Regions from separate parts of the Homo sapiens genome. Here all the other regions are reported to be linked to region 4. The links are microRNA targets in miRTarBase. Many come from high-throughput screens and were not tested one by one. Region 4 holds a microRNA gene; each other region holds the end of a gene's coding sequence.
The links. Region 4 holds the annotated microRNA hsa-miR-3928-5p (UGAAGCUCUAAGGUUCCGCCUGC, at 1,730-1,752, shown strand). A microRNA usually pairs through its seed, bases 2 to 8, with sites in the 3' UTR of a target mRNA and lowers its output. Matches are read on the target gene's strand: a 7mer-m8 pairs with bases 2 to 8, a 7mer-A1 pairs with bases 2 to 7 and ends in A, and an 8mer does both.

Region 1: the mRNA of ARSK is a reported target of hsa-miR-3928-5p. Seed matches in the 3' UTR shown: 7mer-A1 at 1,427-1,433.
Region 2: miRTarBase lists ADIPOR2 as a target of hsa-miR-3928-5p. Seed matches in the 3' UTR shown: 7mer-A1 at 2,760-2,766.
Region 3: the mRNA of UBR1 is a reported target of hsa-miR-3928-5p. The part of its 3' UTR that is shown has no 7-base or 8-base seed match.

What each region holds. Positions count from the first base shown.
Region 1 is chr5:95,602,894-95,608,047 of GRCh38, forward strand. It overlaps ARSK (arylsulfatase family member K), which reads left to right. Exons shown (of 8, transcript NM_198150.3): 8 at 344-2,209. The coding sequence ends at 633. Among named protein-coding and RNA genes, the nearest start is that of GPR150, 15 kb to the right of the region's middle.
Region 2 is chr12:1,785,712-1,790,865 of GRCh38, forward strand. It overlaps ADIPOR2 (adiponectin receptor 2), which reads left to right. Exons shown (of 8, transcript NM_024551.3): 8 at 233-2,963. The coding sequence ends at 361. Among named protein-coding and RNA genes, the nearest start is that of LRTM2, 32 kb to the right of the region's middle.
Region 3 is chr15:42,941,006-42,946,159 of GRCh38, forward strand. It overlaps UBR1 (ubiquitin protein ligase E3 component n-recognin 1), which reads right to left. Exons shown (of 47, transcript NM_174916.3): 47 at 1,892-4,465. The coding sequence ends at 4,324. Among named protein-coding and RNA genes, the nearest start is that of TTBK2, 23 kb to the left of the region's middle.
Region 4 is chr22:31,156,693-31,161,846 of GRCh38, reverse strand. MIR3928 (microRNA 3928) reads left to right here and starts at 1,728; the gene lies at 1,728-1,785. It overlaps RNF185 (ring finger protein 185), which reads right to left and starts at 1,665. Exons shown (of 7, transcript NM_152267.4): 1 at 1,544-1,665. It also overlaps the pseudogene SNRPNP2.

The DNA of each region.
Region 1 (5,154 bases), not on the chromosome of region 4:
TATTCATTTCTGCCTGTCAAAGTAGGCAGGACATCAAAAACAGGAAGAACTTGTTCTAAACCAGCTTACTAATGATAAAAGTTTGACTTTTTCTGGCATTTAAGAAAAGAAAAAAAAAGTGGGATAGCTGGACAATGGTAGGAAGGAGGGAATTTGGGCATGCAACATAGGGTGTTTAACTCCTGGTATGTTATTTTACCATTTATACTGTCCTTCATTTTACTACACTAACAGGAACTGAAAATCTAAAAAAAAAATCTAATACATTACCTGTCATAATGACATTCTAAAAAAATTTTTAGCAGGTCACTATTTTGACAGATACTTATTTTTTTTCTTTCAGATCTTTCCTCGGATCCAGATGAATTAACAAATGTTGCTGTAAAATTTCCAGAAATTACTTATTCTTTGGATCAGAAGCTTCATTCCATTATAAACTACCCTAAAGTTTCTGCTTCTGTCCACCAGTATAATAAAGAGCAGTTTATCAAGTGGAAACAAAGTATAGGACAGAATTATTCAAACGTTATAGCAAATCTTAGGTGGCACCAAGACTGGCAGAAGGAACCAAGGAAGTATGAAAATGCAATTGATCAGTGGCTTAAAACCCATATGAATCCAAGAGCAGTTTGAACAAAAAGTTTAAAAATAGTGTTCTAGAGATACATATAAATATATTACAAGATCATAATTATGTATTTTAAATGAAACAGTTTTAATAATTACCAAGTTTTGGCCGGGCACAGTGGCTCACACCTGTAATCCCAGGACTTTGGGAGGCTGAGGAAAGCAGATCACAAGGTCAAGAGATTGAGACCATCCTGGCCAACATGGTGAAACCCTGTCTCTACTAAAAATACAAAAATTAGCTGGGCGCGGTGGTGCACACCTATAGTCTCAGCTACTCAGAGGCTGAGGCAGGAGGATCGCTTGAACCCGGGAGGCAGCAGTTGCAGTGAGCTGAGATTGCGCCACTGTACTCCAGCCTGGCAACAGAGTGAGACTGTGTCGCAAAAAAATAAAAATAAAATAATAATAATTACCAATTTTTCATTATTTTGTAAGAATGTAGTGTATTTTAAGATAAAATGCCAATGATTATAAAATCACATATTTTCAAAAATGGTTATTATTTAGGCCTTTGTACAATTTCTAACAATTTAGTGGAAGTATCAAAAGAATTGAAGCAAATACTGTAACAGTTATGTTCCTTTAAATAATAGAGAATATAAAATATTGTAATAATATGTATCATAAAATAGTTGTATGTGAGCATTTGATGGTGCTCGATGAGTTACTTGTATTTGATGGGATTGTTTGGATGTATTTAATGGGAGTATTTGGAGTATTTAACGGGATGTAAACCCTGGATGTACCTGATTTTGTTACTGTTTTATTTTAATAGGTAATATATATACAGGGTAAAAGCTTCAAATGGTACAAAAGGGTTAACAGTGATCGTGAAGTCTCTGTCCTTTCCCTCTTCCCTGCCATCCAGTTCCCCCTCCAAGAAGCAAGTACCGAAACCACCTGCTTACGCATTTTTAGAGATTGGCCACAAATTTATAAACAAATGTATATATTCCTTTCCCCCTACACAAACGGTAACATACTGCACACATTGTTCTGCATGTTGCTTCTTTTTCCTTTTTTTTTTCACTTAACAGTAGATATCTAGAGGTGAAATTACTGAGTCAAGACTATATTTAGCAAAATTACACTAGATACTACAAATTACCTCTAAAGAAGGTATACTAACTGATAATCTCACCATCAATGCATGTCTTCTTATCCTTTGCCAACCTAACAGATAAAAATGTTCTATTTTTATTTTTCTTTTTATGAGTAACGTAGAGCATATTTTCATGTATTTAACAGCCACTGGAATCTGCTTTACCATGGCCTTTCCTATTTCTATTCTTTGCCTATTTTTCTGTTGGTTGTTGGTCTTTGTTTTGTATTACAGGTGTGCTTTAGATATTAGCTTTTTGTAAGAGATCCTGCAAATATCTTCTTTCCAGTTTGTCATTGTCATTTGTCTTTTGACTTTGTTCTGGTATTTTTTGATATGTAGAAATTTTTATTTTCATGTAAGCAAATTTATGAATCTTTGTACACCATAAGTATATACAATTATGATTTGTCAATTAAAAATATTAGTACAAAATTTACAGATCTTTGCTTTTGTGGCTTTTGGGATTTTGTATCATATTTAGAATGGCCTTCTCCACTTGTCATTTTTTTTTTTGAGACGGAGTCTCGCTCTGTCACCCAGACTGGAGTGCAATGGTGCAATCCCGGTTTCAAGTGATTCTCCTGCCTCAGCCTCCCAAGTAGCTGGATTACAGGCACCCGCCACCACACCCAGCTAATTTTTTGTATTTTTAGTAGAGATGGGGTTTCACCGTGTTAGCCAGGATGGTCTTGATCTCCTGACCTGGTGATCTGCCCACCTAGGCCTCCCAAAGTGCTGGGATTACAGGCGTGAGCCACTGCGCCTGGCCTCCACTTGTCTTCTTTTATAATTTTATTTTTCACCTTTGGATCTTTGACCCAGCTGGAATGTATTAAACATATTAGAAATCTAACTTTGGTTGTTTTTTTAAATATGCCTACCCATTGATCTTTTATTGAGTAAACTGTCTCTTCTCCCATTCGTAAAAATGTCACTTCATCATATAATACCTTTGGTTGAGTACATTATCTTTTCCTCCATTGATTTGCGATGCCATTTTTATCTATACCAAAGTCCCATTTATACTTATGCCATTTCTGAACATTTTATTTTCCACTGGACCATTCTATTTTCTTTGTTTCTGTTTTGTTTTTTGTTTTTTTGAGACAGGGTCTTCCCTTGTCACTCAGGCTGGAGTGCAGTGGCACAATCACTGCTCACTGCAGCCTCAATCTCATAGGCTCAGGTGATCCTCGCACCTCAGCCTCCCTAGTAGCTGGGACCGCAGGCACGCGCCACAAAACTCAGCTAATTTTTTAAATTTTTATAGAGACAGGGTTTCACTGCATTGCCCAGACTGGTCTTAAAGTCCTGCACTCAAGCAACCTGACTGTCTCAGCCTCGCAAAGTGCTGGGATTACAGGCATGAGCCACCACACCCAGCCAGACCAGTCTATTTTATTAGTCTGGTAGACAGTATCTGGTAGGACTAGTCCCTTTGCAATAGTTTTCTTTTTTCAGAATTGTCCTTCCTAGCAACTCTTGATTTTTCCATACAAATTTAGAATAAGTTTGTGTAGTAACAAAAATGAAAAGTCCTGTTGGCTTTTAAATGAAATCATTAAATGTATAACCTACTTTAGAGAGAATTTAATTCTTTATGATAGTTATTCTAAATAATTAGCATGTTTTTCCCTTTATTCAAGTCTTCTTTTATATCCCTCAGTAGTAGTCTAAGTTTTCTTCATATAGATCAATTTGTCCGGAAAAATTTTTGAAAAGCAGAGACTTTAAAAAATACCCCCCTAGGCTCTACACTACACCACTTGATTAGAGCTTCTGAGACAGCCTGGGCCTGCTGTGCTATTATTGTTGTCTTGCTGGTCAATCCCTCCAGCCATGATTCTAATATGTAGCCAGAGGTGGGTTTATTTCCAGTTGTTTTATCAGTTATTGTGATTTTAAGTGAATCTTCCTTCCATTATATCCTCTAAGAGAAGATCTTCTTGTTTATATGTGCACTCCATTTCCATATATTTATTTTATGCTGAATCACTTCATAGTGAGTAATAGTTTTTCAAGTGATATATTATTTTCCAAGTAAAAATCTTACCTGCAAATAATTTTACCCAACTTAATACTTCTTCAAACTGTCTTTGAAGTTTTCTTCATGAGTAAGTTCATCTCCTTTATTTATTTGTTTATCGTTCTTCAGTGAATTTATATGAGCTTACCTTTGCAATTATGAATTTCTGAGAAATGATTTTACTTTTGAATATATCTGATTTTTATTACATATGTATATACACATGCATACACAAACACACATATTCTGAAGTGAAACCCTTAAAAAGAAAGACTGAGTATTAAGGTTAAAATTAAACTATACAAATCCACCATCCATCTCCTAAATAAGCCTAAAGAACACAAGTAGCTAAAGTATGGGTATATATGCTAATCATAGAGAGAAAAGCAATAACAATAGAAATGTGGTCCTGAAAATAGGCTTGTGAAGATAAATCTACTTCATTCTACCCAAACCCTTTAAGATACACATTCATTGTAAGAATTTACCAAGCATCTGCCATGTTTTAAGCATATTAAGTACAGGATCATAATTAGGTACAGTTGAATATTCAGGACAATATCTAATTCAGAATGGTATCTAACAATCATGAAAACCGAAAATTAAGAAAAACGCACAAAATCAAGACAATTATCTAATGCCAGAATCTGAGAGGAACTGACACTAATTAGAAGCTGGAATGAGAATAACCTTTGGGCTTCCATTTTTACTACCTCCACTACTAACTTCTTGTTCTAATCCACCATGATCTGTGCTTGGAATTTTGCTGTTGACTCTTAAGAGGTCTCCATGAATCTGTCCTTGGCTTCCTTCAGTCTGTTCTCAACAGCAGCCAGAGTGAGCCTGTCAAAATACAGATCACACCCCTGGATACTCAAAGCTCCCACTGGTTTCCCATCTTTTTCTGTAAAAGCCAGAGTCATTACAATAGCCTGTGGGCCCCAAATAATCTGGTAGCATGTTCTCTCTAAGACCGCTTCTCCTCCTATACTCCTACCTGATTTACTGTGCTCCAGCCACATGCATCCCTGTTGCTTTCCAGACAGACACACCAGGCATGCACCACCAAGACCTCTTTGCGCTTGTCAATTTTTTCTGCCTAGAGTGCAGTTCTTCCTTCAGATTTTTTCATGGCTCACTGTTATTTCCTTGAGGTCATGGCTCAAATGTCACCATCGCACAAGGACTTTCCTGCTTTATTTTTCTCCATAGAAATTATTACCATTTAATTTAGTGTGTGTCTTACATAATTAATGTGTTTGAGCTGTCTTTTACCCTTTCTGACGGTACTAGAATAAAAGCTCCAACCAGGCATGGCGTTTTGTCCCTTTTCTCCATAAAGTATCTCAAATGCCTAACACATAGTAGAAGCTTAGTAAATACTTGTTGAATT
Region 2 (5,154 bases), not on the chromosome of region 4:
GCTTAGTGGCAGCACCTTGGTTTCTTTGGGAACAGCTGGCTTTCAGCTCAGCAGAATGTGTTACACCTAATGGATGTTCCAGGATCTGTGGACGCCTTGAATTTGAGCTCTGTCACATCCATTCCCTGCCTTCTGCTCAGCATAAACCAGGATTAAACGATCCTAAGAATCTTTAGCAGTCTTAATAATGTATGGGTTTCTCTACCCCCTTCTCTTCTTTTTTCCCCTCCAGTTTCACTCTCATCAGCTGTTTCATATCTTTGTGGTTGCTGGAGCTTTTGTTCACTTCCATGGTGTCTCAAACCTCCAGGAGTTTCGTTTCATGATCGGCGGGGGCTGCAGTGAAGAGGATGCACTGTGATACCTACCAGTCTCCAGGGACTATGACCCTAAACCAGGGCCTGCGGCACTTGCGGGCCTCCCTGCTGGCTACTGATGCCAGTACCAGAGGAGCCCCAAAACTTTGACAGCCTCGTGGGCTTTGTGACGGCCCAGTGGCTCTGCGTGGTACATGACTGAGAAGAGAAAAACAAAAATAAATCATACCTCAAAGGATGGAGTGCATCAATTGGGAGAAAAGGAGACATAGCCCAAACCCTGGCTTATTCTTGGGATCTACTGATTGCGGGCTCTGCAAGACCCTTGGCAAACTGGCTTCTGATCCATATCATATTTATTTGTAGAAGATGGCGAAACAGTTTAGCTGGTGGTTCTTTCTTCTCCCTTTCTCTCTCTCTATGACAATAATACAAACCAATTTAAGTGAACATTTATATCCGATAAGGGGTGGGAGTGTGATTTTAAATGCTCTTTTGGGAGAACAAAGAAATTAATGTAAATAAGATTTCTAACTGTTTAAATAAGACTTTATATAAATGTTTAAAACATAGGGGTAAGGGAGGGAGGGAGAATTTTTGTATAGAATGAAACATGCAAGTACCACACACTGTTTGAATTTTGCACAAAAAGTGACTGTAGGATCAGGTGATAGCCCCGGAATGTACAGTGTCTTGGTGCACCAAGATGCCTTCTAAAGGCTGACATACCTTGGACCCTAATGGGGCAGAGAGTATAGCCCTAGCCCAGTGGTGACATGACCACTCCCTTTGGGAGGCCTGAGGTAGAGGGGAGTGGTATGTGTTTTCTCAGTGGAAGCAGCACATGAGTGGGTGACAGGATGTTAGATAAAGGCTCTAGTTAGGGTGTCATTGTCATTTGAGAGACTGACACACTCCTAGCAGCTGGTAAAGGGGTGCTGGAGGCCATGGAGGAGCTCTAGAAACATTAGCATGGGCTGATCTGATTACTTCCTGGCATCCCGCTCACTTTTATGGGAAGTCTTATTAGAGGGATGGGACAGTTTTCCATATCCTTGCTGTGGAGCTCTGGAACACTCTCTAAATTTCCCTCTATTAAAAATCACTGCCCTAACTACACTTCCTCCTTGAGGGAATAGAAATGGACCTTTCTCTGACATAGTTCTTGGCATGGGAGCCAGCCACAAATGAGATTCTGACGTGTCCAGGTTTCTCCTGAGCTCATCTACATAGATTGGTAGACCCTTCCTTTGGATTAGGAAAGATGAGTTTTACCTCTGGTACACTGTCTTGGTAAGCCTGGATGTGACAGACACCTCGGCTCTCCTTGAATAAGAAAGCCAGCAGAACTCTTAAAGCCAGTTGTAGTACGGAGTTGTCAGCACTCACTGAACCTCACTTTACAGGGATAAGAGTGGTGTGGCATTTTAAATACAATGGTATGTTATTGCCAGGGAGTGAGGTACAAGACGATGGCTCATGTCACAGGCCTACCTGATACGGTGTCAGAGAAAGTGGTGGGGAAAGGATCTGGTTCATGGAATTCTGATCTTGGCCCATAGGTGAACCACCAAAATAGTGCTCGAGTCTTAGGTTACTGTCATCAAAGACTTGGGATGACTCCATTATATCCTGGGGTTGTGGGTATTAGAACTAAATATGGAGGTCCTGAGCATGGGGACTGGCGTCCTCAGTAGGTGTTTGGGAATATGGGAAGGGTCTCCTATTTATTCAATAGAGTTTTCTCAGTTATTTTCCTCCCTTGCCCTTGCAATCTCCAGCAAAAGGTGGGATCTAGGAAGAAAGAATCCAGTGTAGAAGTTGAGAAGAACTTGAACGTTTTGGTTCTGGATAAGGTCACTGTCCTAGGTGCTAGGTGGACCGAGCAAAAGACTCAGTGGATGAACTGGTGCAGTGCCTGACAGAATAAAGAACAGTATTAATCCCTTTGAGAAAGCATAGTCCAGCAGGACAGTGGCCATTTGGACAGAAGCCCACTTAGTTTCTTGGGAGCAACAGCACGTATCAGAAGCCAGACTTGCTCTTCGGTCATGCACTTTGGGATACAGCGTATAGGTGCAGCCCTGTCACAACACCAACAGAAGTAGCAGCCTCTGGGTGCAGTCACCCACACCCCAAAGCTGGAAGGATCTGGTTCAACATAGCACAAACCCTTAGGAAAAATGAAATTAACATCACTGATGTGTAATCCAGTAAAATCTCCCTTTTTCGGGTGTGTATGTGGGCATGTGCCCATTTCTATGTGTGTGTCTACGTGCAGCTCACTACCAACAGCCTCATGTGCACTTGACCTGACAGTGCTCGCTGAGAACTCTCACCAGGTTGGCGCCTGAATGCCTTACTCTCAGCAGTCAGAGGCTTGCTTGCTCTGTGCAGATTTTTAATTTTCTTTTTTGGCCCTAGGCTGGTTGGGACCTCTACAGCTTCATTCTTTCACCATTAAATAGTGGCCTTTTTCAGTATTTTCCCTCTTCCCCTTTATAAATTATGCTAAAGCCACAAAGCACATTTTTGGGGATCATAGAAGGTTGGGGTTCCAGAAAGGCATCTGTGTGATGGTTCCATTGATGTGGGATTTCCCTACTTGCTGTATTCTCAGTTTCTAATAAAAAGAACCAAATGAAATATGACCTGTCGTGTGTTTTTTTATTGCCGTTCAGCTTACCTCCCCTTGGCTTTTGGCACTTCTCTGAAGCTCTAATTTAGACACTGTGATTTAAGAAATTTTTGGAAACTTCCCCTTCGGGATGCAGAAATCAAAGTGCTTATGCCCAACTCCTGTTTCCTAACTCAAGCTTTCCTCGTAAGTTGCACCAGGTTTAGAATGGAGGGGAGAGCAGCTCTAAGGGGCAGTTCTTATTTATTATTGAAGTTTATAAAAATAGTCTCTAATGCCAAGGGCAATAGGCTCTACCATAAAGCCTGGGTGTGTAGTAGGCTGTACCATCTAGGTTTGTGTAAGTGCATTCTATGATGTTTGCGTGACAACGAAATCAACTAATTATGAAATCACTTAATGATACATTTCTCAGAATGTATCTCTTTTGTTAAGTGAAACATTACAAAATTTATTTTTTTGGGCACGGTGGCTCACTCCTGTAATCCCAGCACTTTGGGAGGCCAAGGCGGGCGGATCACGAGGCCATCTCCTACAGGCAGTGCACATTGACTAAGTTCATTCCTTGCTTTTGCTGTTGTTTGCTATTATAAATAGGATTTTGTCTTCAATTATATCTTCTAAAAGTTCTTTTGATTGGTGAAAGCTACTGATTGCTGAATATTGGTTTTTTACCCCGACCATTTGCTGTTTTCTCCTCCTAATCATAATTTTTTCTTAGTTGGTTTCCAGTAATAAAGTCATGTTGTCTGAGAAAAAAAAAAATAGTCTCTAATGTAACACTTGATGCCAAGGGATGTGTTAGAGAACTGTCGATGTCATATGATCATAATCACAACCCTCTGAGCCATTCAGGAGTATTTTCACTCTCATTTTATAGATGGGGAAACTGAAGCTTAGGAAGTTTAAGAATGACTCTAGTGCCAGCACTGTATTGGAGAAAAGAGTGAAGAGAAAATTTAAGAAAACCTTTCTGTATTTGTTATTCTGATTAAACAGTGTCATATACATTGACTTAAAGGTTTTGGGGTTCATTAACCTAGTCCCTTCTATATAAGAAGAGGATCTGGTTCGAGTTGGTGTTTGAAATAAAAAAAAAAAAAACGGAATTCCAACCCTTTTGCCTTAGGTAAATTTAGTTTTTGGAAGGGCATTTCCAGTATCAGGATAATATGTTCATTCTGAATTCTCATTTTTAAGTATAGATTTAACTTTAGAGTGTCCCATACCTTACCTGGGCATAGACATTGGATCATTCCCTGCTTTTGACAAACAGTATTAGCTGAAGCCTACTAATAACCCACTTGTCTTTTCCTCGTCTCTTCCCAAAAGGCATCTGAGCCGGGCATGGTGGCTGACGCCTGTAATGCCAGCACTTTGGAAGGCCGAGGTGGGCGGATCACAAGGTCAGGAGTTCGAGACCACCTTGGCCAAAATGGTGAAACCCCGTCTCTACTATAAATACAAAAAATTAGCTGGGTGTGGTGGAGGCACCTGTAATCCAGCTACTTGGGAGGCTGAGGCAGGAGACTCGCTTGAACCTGGGAGGTGGAGGTTGCAGTGAGCTGAGACCATACCACTGCACTCCAGCCTGGGTGACAGAGCGAGACTCCATCTCCCAAAAAAAAAAAAAGTGTCTGTATGGTTCCTGATACCCAGGTGATGTTATGTGGTTGTAGAGGAAGTAGATAAGGACAAGTTTGGATTCTGACTGTACAGCGTGCTAGGCTCTGGGTGCCTAGAGAACCCTCTGGGCAATGTTACTTTAAAATCATCCCAGAAACAACATCTTCTTGAATATTTGGCTTCAATTGTAGTGTTTCATTTTGTCTTCCCCTCAGAGGGCATGAACCATTTGCTAGCCAGCACTGCTCCCTACCCACCACCAACACCCTATCTAATGTACAAATCTTTTCTGCCTTCAGCTGTTTGACTTGGTGAAACAAGGGCAGCCTGTCTCACTCATGTAGAGGCTGCTTATGATGGCATGGGGCAGGAAGGAAGCGTCACGTGCGATGGCCTCTTGTCACCGCCATCCTACTGTCCCACCGTCCCTACCCTGCTACACTACCTGGAAATGAAAAGGGTAGCTTCAGATCTCAGTTGTGCCATTTGCCATGTAGCATGGGCAAGTGGCCGTTTGCTTGTCTAGCCTCGGTGTTCTGTTAAAATGAGGCCAACGATACATCCTCTAGAGCC
Region 3 (5,154 bases), not on the chromosome of region 4:
AGGCTGGAGGGCAGTGGTGTGATGTCAGCTCACTGCAACCTTGACCTCCTTCTCAAGGGATCTTGCCACCTCCGCTTCCCAAGTAGCTGGGACTACAGGTGCGCCACAATGCCCAGGTCTTTCCAGCTTTTCCTTACTGTGCATTCCATTGGTAACTTTTCATTTTTGTCTTCCTTCTTAGTCTTCATTTCTATTTTTTCCCCAAATTTCGCTTGACTGATCTGGGTGACAGAGCGAGACTCCGACTCAAAACAAAAAACAGACAAAAACCGTTCTTTGCCTTCAGTGTTGCCCCTCACAGAATTTTTTTTTTTTTTTTTTTTTTTTTTTTTTTTTTTTTTGAGATGGAGTCTCACTCTGTTGCCAGGCTGGAGTGCAGTGGCACAATCTCAGCTCACTGCAATCTCCACCTCCCACATTCAAGTGACTCTCCCACCTCAGCCTCCTGAGTAGCTGGGACTACAGGTGCGCACCACCATGCCCAGCTAATTTTTGTATTTTTGGTACAGACAGGGTTTCACCATGTTGGCCAGGATGGTCTTGATCTCTTGACCTCGTGATCCGCCCGCCTCAGCCTCCCAAAGTGCTGGAATTATAGGCATGAGTCACCGTGCCTGGCCCCCTCATAGAATATTTTAAAGCTTAAAACTAAAGCAATTGCATCTAACCTTTTAAAAATTCCAGGTACCCTTTTCTCAAATGAAAGCTTACACAGAAACTCAAAATGAAAAATCACAACTATCCAGCTTTGGCACTCTTTCCCCTCTCGGGCCTACGTTTCTCCCAGAATCTTTGGCACTTAGTCTGAAAATCACCAAGCTAAAAAGAAAGCAAACTCTTCATTTTATGAAGAGTCATGGCTCAGAAATGGAAGAAAACCACCCTGCTTATTTTAAGGCTCAATCCCACAAGATTGATTCCAGATCGAGGGTGAGAACTGGGCATTTGTATTTTGTTAATACTCTCTAGGTGACTGTAATGCACAGTTAAGTTTGAGAACCATCACACTAGATGTATACTGCCCAATATGGTAGCCACCAGCCACACATGACTACATTTAAATTAACTAAAAATTAAAAATTCAGGCCCTCAGTTGCACTAGCCACATCACAAGTGTTCAACAGCCACATGAGAATAGTGACTGCCATTCCATATGGTAAATACACACAGAACATTTTTTTTTTCTTTGAGACAGAGTCTCACTCTCTCACCCAGGCTGGAGTACAATGGTGTGATCTCGGCTCACTGCAAGCTCCGCCTCCTGGGTTCACGCCATTCTCCTGCCTCAGCCACCTGAGTAGCTGGGACTACAGATGCCCGCCACCAAGCCTGGCTAATTTTTTGTATTTTTAGTAGACACGGGGTTTCACCGTGTTAGCCAGGATGGTCTTGATCTCCTGACCTCGTGATCCCCCCACTTTGGCCTCCCAAAGTCATGCGATTACAGGCTTGAGCCACTGCGCCCGGCCAGAACATTCCTATTATTGCAAAACTCTTCTGGATACTGCTGCTCTAGACAGCTGTCTCCATATTAGAGCGTGCATACCCAAAAGGATGCAGATTGGATTGGAAGATATTTAAATATCTATTTCTATTTTTAACTGATTTTTAAATCTCCTTTTAAAGCTATGTTTTATAATTTGCATGATGTATTAGTAAAGCACTGCATATAGAATATAAAATATGTGTTATGTGTTTATATTCTATTTGGTATGCATGCTAAAAACTATTTATTGATGGAGTATATGGCTAAAAAGTTTGGAGACCCATGTATACTAAACACCTATGTCTTTTAAAACATTTGCCTCGGCTGACAAAGGTTTCAACTGGAGAGTCTTCCTAGCAGATTTTTATACTTCAAACCCAAATCCCCAAACATGAGAAGTCCCTATTTTTCTTTTTAAATATACACATATATTTTATTTTAAAAAGCACAAGAACATTATACAAGTTTTAAATTTACATTTTTGCAATAAAAGTTATCAATATATGCATTATTTGTATAACTTCATCATGGATGGAATTTGAATCAGTGGTATAAACATGTTGCAGTCACTAAATATAGATCATCATCACAGTGAACCAAAATGCATAGTTGTTATGAAATGACAAATGACCACTAAAAGGTGAACTCACAGCCCATACACCAATATAATAAATTAATTATACAGATATATTTTTCTTCACCATATCATTAAAATTCTCACTAGCCCCTTACCAAACATTAGAAAAACACAGTTCTGGAGCCATCCTGTTGAACCAGTGCCTTCACATACTACACTAAAGAAAATAAAGTGACTCAGTTGCTTGTTTGTAAGTAAACTTCATAAGCATAATTGTTTGCAATGATTAAGGTAAATCACTAGGACATTTGAACATAATGAGAAATCCCTGGGGCTTGGGGCAGCACTGAGACATACGCTCATCTACAGTGCAAAAATCTGAATCAATCTCAATCAGTGGAACGCAATATGAAATGGGTTCTTTGGCAGTAAAGGTCTGGCTGGCCATTGCCAGACAGTCCCTCTGTCCTCTTGAGAGCCTAACTCCAGAATTTATTAAGTTAATATAAAAAGGACTAAAAATAAAGTCAGTTTATCTTTGCTAAATTGGGGCCCATCTATTAGGGTAGAAGTCAGTATCTTCTGTTTCCTATTCTAGCCCAGATTTCCCAGTCAAACAATCCACTCAATACAATTATATAAGAAACAAACACACATGTTCAAATACTTTCATCATTCTGGCAAATCTGACAAACTGAATACTGAATTTCCTGATCCTTACCTGTTATTGTTACAAATTGTTCACTAGACATGTATCTATTTATCCAGATACCTTCTGAATTGTAATTATTCAAGTAGAAAATCATGATTGTGATTCTGACGCCTGCTCATGCCAATCCCTTACTGCAAAATCCACTTTTCTTTACATAAAAGTACCAAAAAAATCTAGCCCCAAATGTGCATCACTAATCACTTAGCAAATATATTTTACTTGCTTGCCTTTGCTGAGCAAAAAGAAGGTAGGAAAACATTTACACACATATGTGAGACACTAATAGCCAAGGGCAAAATAAGATACAGTCTTTGAATGCATCTTTCAAGGTTCTAACATTACCCCAGAAACAACGTAAGTTAAAATGGAAGGTTTCCATTTATCTTCTGCTGTTTTATATCACAATCTCTTGATACAAAAAACAAAAGCCAGGAACCAAGAAGTCTATGCACAAATTCAGGAGAGCTCTATTATTTATAAACAAGATGGCTCAACCACAGCATGTTATAACAGGACACAGACTATTGATCACATGGCTTTTTTGGTGGTTTGTACTAGTCATAAAACCAGAGTTTATGAAAAGGTTGCACACAGACAACATCAAGGATTTGTCTTTTACAAAGATATAGAAGACTGCGGAATTGGTTTAAATCTGATTGTTCTAATTTACAGTTGTCATGATCCACTCATTGCGAGAATTTTCTCATCTTCATTCTACAGTTTTTACATCAGAATTACAAGAGGTTTCTGAGAGTCAAACAGGATGGTGCCACAATCTCCTTGCAGAATGAGATTTGCCTTTGGAAAATGTCAAGTATTATTTCAAAACTCAACAAAGCTACTGGTAGTCAGAGGTGAGAACTGCAAGCTCTTTGTACCGTCAGGAATGAATAACAAATACATTACCCTAACTTTTCTTGAGGCCTACAGTGAGAAAAAAGCTTTTCCATATTGGCAGAAATCATCCTCTGTCCACATAGAGATTGAGTTTAATTTGTGGTGATAGCAGCAGGTGGCACATTAGGGGTATTTCCTTAAAAGAGAAATAATAAAAAATTTATTTTTGGAATCTTTCCCAAGTATATTGCATGGTTTCTGCAATTCTTCTTTAACTGCAAGGAAGACTATCACAGATTATTAGAATTTTGTCAGTGATCCAATGTCAGTTGAACTAAACTTGGGGGGAAAACACCAAATACAAAATTGCAGAAGAGTTAACCAACATATAAAATGTCTACAACTGTTTGACGTGACTTCATCTACCAAGTGGATGAAATAAAATGAAATGAGACAAATTATGAAGGGGAATAAATTCCTGGAAATACTAGCACATAAAACAGATTGATCTATGTCCTTTTTTCCTGTGAAGCATATGTTTGCTAATTGAAAGCAATACTCCATTAAGAAATATTTTATTGATGTAAGTGAACCTGGACATGGAGCAAAAGACCCTCCAATACTTTCCCAGCCCTCAGAAAGTTTTCCATAATTTTGAATCAGCCTTTACTACTGTCGTCATTTGTGATTGTCTTGAGGCAGAGTTGGAGCTCACAGTAACTGCCAGTTGAATCCAAATAACATCTGATTAGTCTCTTGGCTCCTAGCAATCTCTTCTATAATGCAGTGTTGTTGCCAGACCAAATGGAGCTTCCGATACCGCTCACGAGATAAATGAAGGGGGTTGCCCCTCCTTTAGGGAAAAAAGAAAAAACAACATGTAAGTTTGAATCTAGTAACTGCCACATCTTTATTGTCTAAATTAGTATGCACTCTTGAGATGTTCCTGGAGCCGGGAGGACTCACCAGCACAGGGCTTAAAAAGGGATATTTTCCCTTCACCATTGATCACTAAGAACTTGACAGGCTACTTAGCTAATAAAGCAGAAATGTACTCCTTGACCATTCATAAAATAGGTCAGGTATATTATGGCATTATGGGACCTCACTTAAATGGTCACTGAGGTTTATAACTTGAAGCAGCACTATTCTTTTTTGGTGGTTAGCTTGAATAGCTTTTTGGCTTCATATTGTTATCTAGCTTCAATTTATGATCTTTGCACAGTAGAGGTTAGGCCTGACGTATAACACTAGGCCCTAAAATTATATTTTGCTACTCAGAGATATTTGGTTGTAACTGTCCTTACGATACAAAAAACTGGCTGGTTATTAGCAAATAATTTAATAAAATAATTATACTTCAATTCTAGAGTTGCACAGTTTTTAACACTGTATAACAGCTAATCCAAAATGACTTAAGTCTGGCTGTTGCCAGTAACGGAGAACTGTGAGATCCTAATTCCTTGAGACATTCAAGTCTCTCAGCTGGTTGGGGATTTTTTTTGTTTTTGTTTTTGTTTTTTGGAGATGGAGTTTCGCTCT
Region 4 (5,154 bases):
AGTCAAGTCTATAAGAGGACTGTTTTTATATGATGCATGGAAAGCTAGCCAACAGACTGCAAAAATTCTCTCACATCTATACACATATTGCTGAAGAGAGGATTCAAGCAGGGATTATGTTCCAGGGAAGAGAAGGCTGGTCTGAACAACCTCAAGGGGTGCTTTCAACTGAGAGTCCTCAATTTTGTGATTCAGAGTTCACTGGCTTCTCCTGGTCAAACATAAAATCTTCAGAGGCATTTCCAACTTGTTCTTAGAAAAAAGCTACTAACCCATGGGGTGGGACCCAGTTTACTTATTCATTCAATAAACATTTAAGGTGCCTCTATCAGATATTGGGTCATTCCAAAGTCCTTGAAAAGAAGGATGGTGCACAGGACAACCAGGAAGAGATTATGTAAGGTCAGATGCATTGGCCTTATTTACAGGAGATGTAGGCTAAAGTGATGGAAGTGTCAAAAGAGAAGAAAAAAGTCACATTTGCCTTGAGAGCAGAGTCAGCACCAGAAAGATGCAGAACAACTCCTTGGAATCACAGACTTTCAAGTTGGAAAGGACCTTCATCTAATACCTATATACCTCCCTCGAAAGGAGGCACGGAGGCAATCCATTCACTCCATCGGTGGTCACCTCTGACGATTCTTCCATTTAAGTTCTTCTATTAAGCAAAAATCTTGCCTTCCTGTAGAATTCACCTGTTAGTCCTAGTTCTGCCTCTTTTAGCCTAAAGATGAAGTGGAAGCCCTCTTTGCCGTAACAGTATTTTCAATTTTTAAAAAGTTAATTCCCTTCCAGTGCTCTCTTTACTGAGCTAACCATTCCAGTTCTTTCAAAGTTCCTGAACTGGCACCAGCTGCCTCAAAGCGAAGAATGGATATCTAGTGCTCACAGCAGGAAAGCACTTAAAATCAATGAGCTTCAAACATTAGTATATACAGGACCCCCCTACGCATAAGTTCAGATTCTAAACCAGAAGTCTGAATTGAGTCCCGCGCTGTAAAGCCGGCATCTCAGAGAATTACAAAGCAGATGGTGTAAGAACCATATTTTGAAAAACACTGCCCCGTTTTAGAGACGAGAAAACTGAGGCCCAGCACAGGGAAGAGATTTGGCCCAGAACGCACAATTGTCTGTCGGTGGCGAAGTCTCGAATCCAGGTCTCTTACTTTCAGCCCAACTCTGTTCACCGCGCTCCCCGGCCTCTGCTTCTCCACTCAGGGCAAACTCGTGAAATGCACTCCCAGATGATAGAGGCGGTCTCGCACGGGGGATAGAATGGGAATCAGTGCCCATGCCTCGAAAGGAGAGCTTGTGGGAGCCCTTCTCTTTCGCAAGGCCTCAGTTTCCCCAATCTGTATTCATGGGACGCAGAACCACAACGCCAGCTCGTCCTCTTTTCGGGGACAGACACGACCGGTCTTGCTGTCTCTGGGCCCCTGGGCTCAGATGTTCAAGCCCGTGTGTCCTGGGAAGGCGGACCCGGGTCTCCCGCCCCCGTCCCTAAACTTTGGCGCCCCCGCCCCAACCCCAGCCCCTCACATACCTGCCTCCGCACAGTTAACGCCAGCCCAGTCAATCAGTTTTTCGGGTACACGGCCAATACTAACGCCGCGTCAATCTGTTGGGTAAGACCTCCGACCCCTCCTACGCGGACTCCAGTCACATGACGCGGAGCCGCCCCTCTCGGAGGGACTTCCGGCCCCAACCGGAAGAGGTTAATTTCCATGGCTGAAGCTCTAAGGTTCCGCCTGCGGGCAGGAAGCGGAGGAACCTTGGAGCTTCGGCAGCTTTTCAAAGAGCTTTGGGTTCGGGGCTCCTAAAAGAAAAAAACTGATTCCGGCCGGGCGCGGTGGCTCCCACCTGTAATTCCAGCAGTTTGGGAGGCCGCGGCGGATGGATCACTTGAGGTCAGGAGTTCGAGACCAGCCTGGCCAAAATGGTGAAACCCCTCTGTACTCAAAATACAAAAAGTAGCCGGTCGTGGTGGCGCACACCTGTAATCCCAGCTACTCGGGAGGCTGAGGCAGGATAATCGCTTGAACCCGGGAGGCGGAGGTTGCAGTGAGCTGAGATCGCACCACTGCACTCTAGCCTGGGCGTCAGAGTGAGACTCCGTCAAAAAAAAAAAAAAAAAAGAGAGAGAGAAAGAACTAACTCATTCCGGAAAGTACCAGATAAACTTGGAACATCTTGTTACACCAGAATATAAGGATGATGGTAATAAGAATCATGGGAATGTGTCAAAGAACACAGGAGCTGTCTTTAAGGAGATCTTACTGGCCAAGTCAGGGCAATTTCAGAATCAAAATATGGAGTGATAGTAATAGAGTATAACTAATTGAATAAAATAGTAATCCATGAGTCTTTACAAACATAAAGAAGTGAGCATATTAATGGGTGAAGGGAAAGTCTTCCTTTTAGTAGAATGCTAGCTAATAAACATGGTGGAATTAGGAAATCAATAATGTGTGGTAAAACTAGAGAAACGGGATGTTTACAACAGCAAAAGTGTCTCCCATAAATTAGCTATTGATTACAAAGGGAAAATGGTGATGTTACAGAGGTTTAACCTAGCAGAACAAACAGATCAAAGTGATCAAAGTTAACACCACTAGTTAATGGGTCAGATCAAGGGCCTCCTAATAAAATGCACTGAGAACACATCTGTGGTATTTCTGTCAAAAGTGCACCGTACACATCTCATGAGGAAGTGCTAGAGAACCCCAAATGAAGGACACTGTCTACAAAATAACTCATTGTCATGAAAAACAGAGAAAAGCTGAGGAACTGTTCCAGTTTAAAGGAGACTAAAGAAGCATGACAACAAAATGTGGTGTGTGATTCTAAATAGGACCCTGGACTGGGGTAGTGGTGGTGGTGGAATAGTTGTAATGGACAATATTGGGACAAGTAATGAAATTTGAATATGGATTGTGGATTAGCTGTTAATACATATTGTATCAAATCACATACTGATAGGTGATGGAGCTTGTGATTTGCACTCAAGCAGTCATTGGAGTTCTTGACAGCCATCTTCATTCATTCAACAAGCATTTATTAAGTACCTACAGTTATCCCAGGAACGGTTAGGGATCGGACCTGAGTAGGAGGTGAACATAGTAGATAAAGGCCGGCGCGGTGGCTCACGCCTATAATACCAGCACTTTGGGAGGTCGAGGCAGGCAGATCACCTGAGGTTAGGAGTTCGAGACCAGCCTGGCCAACATGGTGAAACTCATCTCTACTAAAAATACAAAAATTAGCCAGGCGTGGTGGCGGGCACCTGTAATCCCGGCTACTTGGGAGGCTGAGGCTGGAGAATTGCCTGAACCCAGGAGACAGAGGTTATAGTGAGCCAAGATCGTGCCATTGCACTCCAGCCTGGGCGACAAGAGTGAAACTCCATCTCAGAAAAAAAAATAAAAAATAGTAGATGAAATAAGCTCATAGATGAAAGTCCTAGTCTGCCAGCCACCTTTGCAAGTTCCTGTGATCAAGAAGTAATACAAGGGATGTTTCCAGTCACACAAACCTGGATTTGAAACCAAGCGCTAAGAGAAAAACAGCCCCTGACATCCAGGAGATGGTCTGGCACTCACAAATAGACCTTGGTGTGTTCTCTTATTGAACATAAAAACTTCACAGAACATCAACATCAAACAAAGCCACTATGTGACCATGATGGATCAAGACAATAACAAAACCACTTGAATCATGTCTAAACCCAGACAAAACATGAGCATTGTTCGAACTACAAAAATGGCCAAACATTTCCCTATTCTGGCTTGTATAGAGATTATAGATTTAGCCTCGGTCTACTCTTCCCTCCTTCTAAATAATGTTTATCAAGGTACTCACTCATAGGCAGCATCCAATCCAGAAAACCCCATTTTCTTAAGCCCTCGTCCAAATCACCTAATGCAAGCCCAAATCCTATGTGTCCTTTGTAACACTTTGTTACTGAGATGCCCCTTTGTTTGTTTGTTTGTTTGTTTGTTTGTTTTTGAGACAGAGTATCACTCTATCACTCAGGCTGGAGTGCAGTGGTGTGATCTCGGCTCACTGCAGCCTCTGCCTCCTGGGTTCAAGTGATTCTTCTGCCTCAGCCTCCCAAGTAGCTGGGATTACAGGCGCCCACCATCACTCCCGGCTAATTTTTGTATTTTTAGTAGGGACAGGGTTTCACCATGTTGGCCAGGCTGGTCTCGAACTCCTGACCTAAGGTGTTCCTCCCACCTTGGGCTTCTACAGTGCTGGGATTACAGATGTGAACCACCAAGCCCAGCTGCCCTATTGTTTCTCATGATTCATGTCCTCTCACCCTTACCCCATAACAAGTGATAAACTCAACTTGTTTAACCACAGGTGTGTTCCAATTTCTTCCTTCCTCAAAAAGTTGTTATGAGGATACTCGGAACAGGTTCATCACAGAGTGAGCTTTCTCTATCAATCGATCCATTATCTATTTTTTATTTTTTTAAAAAAACATGGTCTCAGCCTGTGGTCCAGACTGGAGTGCAGTGGCACACCATCCTAACTCACTGCAGGCTTCAACTCCTGGGCTCAAGTGATCCTCCCACCTCAGTCTCCTGAATAACTGTGACTACAGGCACGCACCACACCCAGCTAATATTTTTTATTTTTCTGTAGAGACAGGGTCCTGCTGTTGCCCAAGCTGGTCTCAAACTCCTGGCCTCAAGGGATCCTCCCAGTTTGGTCTCCCAAAGTGTTGGGATTACAGGCATGAGCCACCTCACCCAATGCTTTCAATATACTTTTAAAAATTATACATATATTTTTGAGACAGCACCTCACTCTGTCACTCAGATTGGAGTACAGTGATGCCATCTTGACTCACCTCAACCTCCGCCTCCCTAGCTCAAGCGATTCTCCTGTCTCAGCCTCCTGAGTATCTGGGATTACAGGTGCATGCCACTACCACCCAGCTAATTTTTGTATTTTTAGTAGAGATGGGATTTCACCATGTTGGCCAGGCTGCTCTCGAACTCCTGACTTCAGGTGATTTGCCCTCCTCAGCCTCCCAAAGTGTTGGGATTACAGGCGTGAGCCACCACGTTTCCCCCTCAGCTTGCATTGTTTCTGGGAGAACCTGCACCATACCTTTATCTATAGCTTTCCCCCAGGTCTTAAGAA